Regions from separate parts of the Homo sapiens genome. Here all the other regions are linked to region 3. The links come from fine-mapping of genetic effects on gene expression. A gene starts in region 3. Each other region holds a variant in brackets. All regions are shown on one strand. Distances are between the middles of the regions.

Region 1 (2,678 bases), 54 kb before region 3:
CAACTGCAATCAGACTTCTGTTTATGACAGTAACTCGAGAAGCCTTTTCTCAAGGAGATGCCAACGCATGAAGTGGTTGTATTTATAGAAGTTAAACAAACCTCTTCTGAGAGGTCATAATACCTTACAGGAAATGGGGAGCCTCTGTTGTGTGAAAACTCTGGATAAAACTGGTCATAAAATAGTAACAATCATGAATATTCTTGCCTGCCTGCTTAAAAGAAAGAAAATTACCAACTGAGGTTAAACCATGAGTGTCTATAAAGTTGATTTATACCGTGAATCTAGAAAAGTTGGTCACATTGTGAAATATTTTTGATAGGACATGTATCTAAATGTGAATAAATTCAGCCCTTTTGAAAAGGAAAGTGGACTGCACTCTGATATTGGTAAAATTTCCAAAAATAAAGGTGTTTGCCCATTGGCAATATGATTATAGGGCTCTAGGCACGTATTTTAGACTGGGCAATGTCTTCTTTCTCACAAGACTGTTTTGCTTTAACTCCCTCCTTCGGCCTTCTTTCTAGAAAGTTTTGAAGGATAAAGCCCTTGATGAGAAGCTTGTCTGTTTTCTTCCAACCTGGATTTGGCCAGAGGCTGTCTCAGGACTCAGAGAGACAAATCCGAGGATGCACCTAGATCTTAAAGAGTGGAAATATCTGCAGTGATGAGCATTATTATGGTGAAGCAGAGAAGAGAAAGGAAAGCGAGGAGACAGGAAGGTCGGGAGTGCTCAGAGCACACTGCTGGATGGCTCGGCTCCTAAACCCACATGAGTCACTTTCCCTTTCTGCCACTGCAGAAACTAAATCTGTCTGCTGCCTCCTCCTAGGTCAACAGAGTGCTCATCCGCAACCTCAGTGTCAAAGAATTCTTCTTATTGGAGAGGGTATTTCTCATCCCCACCATGAAATATCAGTCATTTTTTACTGTCCTCCAATGTACCCTCTACAGACAGCCTGAGACGGCGCTAAGATTTTTGCAAATGTGTCCTCAGGTACAGAAAGAACATGTGTTTTGCTGCCATATCTCTTCAGCCTCTGTCATTCTTGGCTCATTTCCTGAAAGATTAAGGAAGCCATCCCAGCCCCTGAGGCTTTGAAATTCCAGTAGAGGCCACTCCCTGAACACCAGAGAGGCCAAGCTGTCCCACAGGCCTAGCCCAGGCCACCTGTCACCCAGCTGACATCCCCTCCAGCTTTGCAGTCATCTCTGCCCCTGCCTGGGCAAGTGAGCTGGGGAGGGTATAGACGTAGGGTTCAGGTATAACTGAGGGACGAGTCAGCAGCTAAGCCACTGAAAAGAACACTAACAGTGTCTGGGTGGCAGCCCCACTGGTGACCTATCTCAAAGTCACATACCATCACCCTGGACATTAGAAAATACTTCTCTAAAAACCTCAAGCTCAGCACCAAGTTAGTTTGATAAGTCTCTACATGTACTACAGGGATTAAAAAATAGAAATTTCTGGCCCTCTGAATATGAAGCTAAAGACACTAG[T/C]ATTTCTGTGGAATTAAGAGATTCTCTTTCAAAAAGTTCAACAGATGTTTGCTTATCCTTTAAACTCAGCTTAAGTTCACTTCATCCAGGAAGCCATCTCTGACTGCCTTGCCACTCTGGGTTAGGTGTACCTTCTCTGTGCACCCAAAGTCCCTCTTTTGAATATTACCGTGATCCTTCCAACACACATTTTAATGACCTAGACTGTGAGCTCCTTAATGGTAGAGGAGGAAGCAGGTCTAGCTCATTTTGAATTCCAATAACCCAGCACAGAGGATTCCACGTTTGTTGAATGAATAAACGAATGAAGTCATTCTTTTTTTTTTTTTTGAGACAAAGTCTCGCTCTCACCCAGGCTGGAGTGCAGTGGTGCGATCTCAGCTCACTGCAAGCTCCACCTCCCAGGTTCATGCCATTCTCCTGCCTCAGCCTCCCAAGTAGCTGGGACTACAGGTGCCCACTACCATGCCCGGCTAATTTTTTTGTATTTTTAGTAGAGACGGGGGTTAGCCAGGATGGTCTTGATCTCCTGACCTCATGATCTGCCCGCCTCAGCCTCCCAAAGTGCTGGGATTACAGGTGTGAGCCACCACGCCGCGCCTAAATGAAGTCATTCTTTAAAAAAAGGTTTGATTCTAGAAGTTGCTAACAATCAGACAGATGTATGCGGCATTTCACTGTACCAATAAAAATCCTTGATATTTAAGAAGGTCAAAATTTTAAGTTTGAAATTTGAAAAGGAAAATAAGTATGGTATCTATTTTTTCTAGACCAGGGAGAGACAATTAATAATTAATCTCTTTTTAATGGCTAGGAAGAATTTCTTGATTGTTGAGACCTGCTGATGGTATTACAATGAAACATCGATTTGGCCTAACTGGGAGTGTTTCCAAGGCAACAGCGACTCTCAATCATGTCAAATTACAGCTGTTATCTCCCTGGGTGTCAGTTTCCCTTAGAAAGCTAATTGAAATTGAAAATGTCTATCTTCAGGCCAAAGTTTAACTTTTCTTTGGATTCATCTGTTTTATCAGACAAAAAGAGAAAGTAAGACAGAAAACAGAGAGAGAGAGACAGAGAGAATAGAAACCCCTGAAAAACAGCATAATTGTTTTTCATTTTTCTAAAGAAGGCTGGCAGAGGTGGACTCTCTAAAAGCCATACCACAGGGTTCACTA
Region 2 (2,678 bases), 35 kb before region 3:
ATTTTTTAAATGTGTTTTTAATATACCCTTTTCTCAGAAATCTACTACAGGATGCTCCACCAAAATTTGTGGGGAGTGAGGGAAAAAAAGAAGCTATGGAATCCAGGAAACAGGGATCCATCTCAAGAGAGGTTAAGGGAACGCCCAAGATAATGGTGAAAGGATGATAAAGATGATAGTAACATGCAGAGCCTACTGGGAAGCCAGTCCAGATAGAGCAAGTCAAAAGGCTCCAGGAAGGATGAAAGTGACAGAATATCCAACAGATGTACTTGAATATATGGAAGAGGGACTTAAACAGTAAGAGGATGGTTGACATTTGTATCAATAATAACAGAAAAATGAAGCAAATGAAGAAGGACCTTTGAACAAGTTAACCTTTGTTAACTTGAAGAAAAATAAAATATTTTACTGGAGAGGAAAGAGGATAGTCAAAATAAAATAAACACTGAAAATTGCTCTGACCAAAATCATGATATAACTTTATTGAGAAAGGGACTATAAAAGTACGTGTTGGGGCAGAGGGGCGAAATGTAACAGAGAAAGATTTCCTAATTGTCTACAATGCCTAAGTGACTGATTGCCTTTGGAAATTGGTTGAAGTGATTGTGTTTTGAAAATGGGACAAGGAACTGAAAATTTCTTCTTCAGACTTACAGCACTATTTGACCCTTTAAACCATGTGCACATATAACCTTGACAAATGGAAAAACTAAATTTAAAGCATAAAATGGAATAAAAAACATGAACTCGGAGTGAGATAAATGTGTGTTTAATTTCCAGCCCATTGGCTTACTAGCCGAATAATCTTGAGCAAATTACTGAAACTCACTGGGTCTCACTTATTTACTTATAAAAAATGAGTGATACCTCAAATGGCTGTTGAAAGGAACAACCAAAAAAAAAAAAAAAGCAAAATAAGAGCATGTCTATAAAGCTGCCCACAGCAGTGCCCAACATGTAGAATGCGTTCAATACATCTCTCCTCAACAAATGTACTTGTCAATTCACAAACTTTTAATAGATCAGGAACTATGGCCATCTCTCTGTCTTCCTGCCCATCCTCCAGCTTAGTACTTTTTTCCTTCTCCTTTCATGAAGTTGTCATCCCCATCTAGCCTGTAACTGTCCTCACTGTCCCACTCTCAGTCCTCACACCTGTCCCTGACCTTTGCCATCTGTGTTAGTCCATTTTCATGCTGCTAGCAAGAACTGCCCAAGACCAGGTAACTTATAAAAGAAAGAGGTTTAATTGACTCACAGTTCAGCATGGCTGGAGAGACATACAATCACGGCAGAAGGTGAAGGGGAAGCAAGGCAACTTCCTCACAAGGTAGCAGGAAGGAGATGTGCCAAG[T/C]GAAGGGGAAACAGCCCCTTATAAAACCATGAGATCTCATGAGAACTCACTCACCATCATGAGAACAGGATGAGGAAAAATGCCACCATGATTCAATTATCTCCACCTGGTCCCTCCCTTGACACGTGGGGATTATGGGAATTACAATTCAAGATGAAATTTGGGTGGGGACACAAAGCCTAACCATATCACCATCTCACCTCAAGTTCTTAGTATGCTCATTGGTGGATGTGGGTATAAATCAACTTCCCAACTGGGTTTGGCCTCTGTCACATCTGTCTGGCATCACATGCAGTATTCTAATAAGAAAGAAAGGCTTTGGCTGGGTGCAGTGGCTCACGTCTGTAATCCCAGCACTTTAGGAGGCTGAGGCGGGCGGGTCACTTGAGGTCAGGAGATCGAGACCAGCCTGGCCAACATGGTGAAACCCCGTCTCTACTAAAAATGCAAAAATTAGCCAGGCACGGTGATACACGCCTATAATCCCAGCTACTCAGGAGGCTGAGGCAGGAGAATCACTTGAATCCAGGAGGTGGAGGTTACACAGTCAGCCGAGATCGTGCTGCTGCACTCCAGCCTGGGTGACAGGGTAAGACTCCGTCTCAAAAAAAAAAAAAAAAAAAGAAAGAAAAAGAAAAAGAAAAAAAAAGGCTTTATTAATGCTTTAAAAAATTTTTCCTTAACAATTAAATATGTTCAACAAATGTGATGCTTCTTTTTAAATTATCAGAAATAACATATATTTTTCCTAAATGTTAACAATGAATTTGTGCACGTACATGTGTTGTTTTTATTTAAATATGAGCAGTTCACCAAATTATTTCCTCATGAGAAGAAACTTCTAAGAAAGCAGGAACTTTTACTTCAAAAGGTGCTAATCCCACCCTAGAATTCTTCTCTTTCACACTCTGTTTTGTCTTTTAATTCCCCAAGAAAATATTACTGGTCTTCATTTAATCATTGTGCCCTTTTTTTCCCCCTCATATGCAGCCTTTTGATACTGCTACAAATAAATGTTAAAAAATGCTTTTCTCCAGTGGGGTAGAAAATCTGAAACAAGAACACAAAAACCTAAGTGGTGGTAAATAATACTGAATGAATGAGTCAGTCAACCAGTCAATGAACAAATGAAAGAAAATCTATTCTTTCTGATAAGTGCTATATACAGGTATCATATATTCTTACTAATATTCTAGGACATATACAGACAGGCCTCAAAGGCAAACACCTGCTTGACTATCACTGCAAGCATGAAAATGGCTACCACCATTGCTTCTGCTGGGAACTCATCACTTCCTCAAGAAAGAAGACAGCAAGTGTT
Region 3 (2,678 bases):
CAGCAGCCTGCATGGCTCCAGGAACCCAGTGGGGTTAAGGCCTTCCTTTAATGACCAGGTACAAGCGCCAGTTCACACACACCCCCTCATTACCTCCTGAACTCGTCTGGGGGTCGAGCCACCCTACACATTTCACATTTACGTGTGTCTTAATGCAGAATAAAACAAGCGATGTGCCCCAGTCAAACTGTCCCATCTCACAAATACACCTACTATGTGCCAGGCATTCTTGATACATCAGTGAACAAAAATGATCAAAATCCCTGCCCTCCCAGCACAGACGTTGTCAGTGCAGCAAATACTCAATAACCAAAAGAAGTTTAATCATTTTCCTCCCACTTTCCTGCCACCCACACCCTGTCCTTCCAATCTCCCAAAGAGCTGGGTGTCTTTAATTCTATTAGCTTGACAGGGAAAATAAAATTCTTCAGCCTGCGCGCAACAGACACTACCCAGGTGCAACCCAATTCACCCCTGAACTCGACCGTCGCGGAACATTTTTCTCCAGCCTCCAAAAACTTCAGGTGGCGTGAGGCTCCCCCAACTGCAGCCCTGGAGGCCAACAAAGGGGCAATGGAGAGGAACGACCAGAGCCCCCTATCACCGGGATGACCGGGCGAACGGGGCGCGCGCGCGGTACTCACCGAGGAGCCGGCCCAGAACGGGCACGAGTTCTTCACCTGCGGGGAGCTGCTCAGCGACAGCGCCCCGAAGCTGAGCGCCACCATGCAGCAGCCCAAGATCAGCTGAAGCAGCCCAAGTGACAGCAGCGGGCGGGCGGGCAGCAGCGCGGAGCCCGGGGCCGCGGCGGCAGCGGCGGCGACTGCCCGGCGGGAGGAGAGCGCCGGCGGCGCGGCCAGCACCCCGGCAGCAGCGGTGGCCGCGCAGCGAGGCCGCGACGGGGGCTGCAGCGCGCCCCGGGGCCAGCGCGGCCGCAGCGGGGGCAGCGGCGGCTCCTGAGCGGCGGCGGCAGCGGCGCCCGGGCCCCCGGCCTGCGGCCCACCCGAAAGCCCAGCCACGGGGCAGCAGGAGCCCGGGAGCACCACGGGCAGGGACATGGACGGACGGGGAAGGGTGCGGCCGGGTGCGGCCGGCTGCGGCGGGCAGAGGACGCGGAGCGGAGCCGAGCCGAAGGCGCAGCACACTGGGCACTGCAGACGGGCTCCGAGGCCGAGGGGGAGGGAAGGAAATGCGCACGGCCCAACCACTTGCTGCCGCCGCTGCCGCTGCCCTGGCTCCAGCCGGCCGCACCCACCTGCCGCCTGGCGGGTCCGCCTCCCGCTGGCCCTGGGCGCACCCTCACTCTCACCCACGCGCACTCCGTGCTCGCGCTGTGCCGGGGCAAGTGCGCCACAGCCTCAGGGTCCCCGCCGAACCTGCGCCGGCTTCCTGGGGTCCTGGGAGGGTGCCCTGCCCCAAATATTTAAGTAAGTCCCTCGAGGTGGGAGGCACCTCACGGCCAGGACACGTCAGCGCCGGCCACCGAGAGTCTCAGCGTCTGTCCCCACCCGCCGAGCTGGGGCTAGAGAAGAGCGAGGAGCCTTCTCTGTCCAGCCACGAGAGAGGCCCTGGCGCGCTTTAGTGAGAAGGGGGCCCGCCCTTAAACTTTTGCCCAAGGAGGGGGATGCCTGGAGGAGGGGCTTTGGGGCGACTCGATGGGAAGAGGTGTAAGCCAAGGACTTCGGGAAGGACGACGCCGAGCGCAGTTACCGCTCACAGGGCGCAGGACGTGCCTACCTCGCATCGGCGCGGGAGTGCTTTCCCGGCATCTCGGTAGGAGCGGGAATGAAAGGACTGGGTTACCTTGGAAGCATCCAGCATCCGTAAAGAAAGTACCCGGGGCAGCCCGGAGTGCATGGCAAGTGTAACGCTCTGTCCTCTCATTGACTTATGAGCTATATCAGGCATCTATTAGGCATCACCTGATAGAACACGGAACCCCCAAACTTCCGAGGAAATATCCTAATAAAATCCTAAACTACTCTGGTAATTTATGAAAAATCTTTAGAGCAAAAAAAAAAAAAAAAAAAAAAAAAAGATTCCTCTTTGCAAAATGAATTCCCTTAATAATATACTTTTCACCTCGGAAGAATTCTAATGCGTAGAAAGTTTCGTGCCTAAAATGATTATAATGGACTTTTTTTCCTGATAAGAACCAGAGCAGTGTTCTTTGCAGTTAGTCAGTTCCAGTATTAGAAAGCTTATCTTACCATAAGGTATTTAACATCCTCCTACCCAATAAACCAAGAAAAGTATGTGTCAGTTTTTATGCTCTGCTTGTGGAAGCTGGATTTATATTGGTCGTTACACTTTAACCCAATGTAATATACTGTCAATGTGCCCAAGTTTACATGCACACTTCTTAAATTATTAAAGCACTTGTCTTTAATGGTGCCTAGGACTTCCTTTACAGACTGCTCCCATGAATAAATTCAAATTCTGGAGGAAAAGGGAAATGTCTTTCAAAATAAGTGTTTAAAGTCTGTTGATTCATGCAGGGGTTTTTTGTTTTGTTTTGTTTTGTTTGAGATGGTGTCTCGCTCTGTTGCCCAGGCTGGAGTGCAATGGCGTGATCTCGGCTCACTGCAACCTCCGCCTCCCGGGTTCAAGCGATTCTCCTGCCTCAGCCTCCAGAGTAGCTGGGACTACAGGTGCCCGCCACCACACCCAGCTAATTT

What was found. PIP is the estimated chance that this variant, and not a neighbour inherited with it, causes the effect.
Region 1: its variant is the best candidate, but not a certain one, in a credible set for the expression of ENTREP1 in skeletal muscle (GTEx, PIP 0.61).
Region 2: its variant is the best candidate, but not a certain one, in a credible set for the expression of ENTREP1 in stomach (GTEx, PIP 0.64).

Annotation. Positions count from the first base shown.
Region 1 is chr9:69,377,909-69,380,586 of GRCh38, reverse strand. All of the region lies in intron 6 of ENTREP1 (endosomal transmembrane epsin interactor 1), which reads right to left. Among named protein-coding and RNA genes, the nearest start is that of ENTREP1, 54 kb to the right of the region's middle. The variant T/C (reference allele first, on the strand shown) is at 1,501.
Region 2 is chr9:69,358,205-69,360,882 of GRCh38, reverse strand. The region is part of intron 2 of ENTREP1 (endosomal transmembrane epsin interactor 1); the gene reads right to left. Among named protein-coding and RNA genes, the nearest start is that of ENTREP1, 34 kb to the right of the region's middle. The variant T/C (reference allele first, on the strand shown) is at 1,358.
Region 3 is chr9:69,323,690-69,326,367 of GRCh38, reverse strand. It overlaps ENTREP1 (endosomal transmembrane epsin interactor 1), which reads right to left and starts at 1,153. Exons shown (of 11, transcript NM_001347995.2): 1 at 645-1,153. The coding sequence starts at 1,058.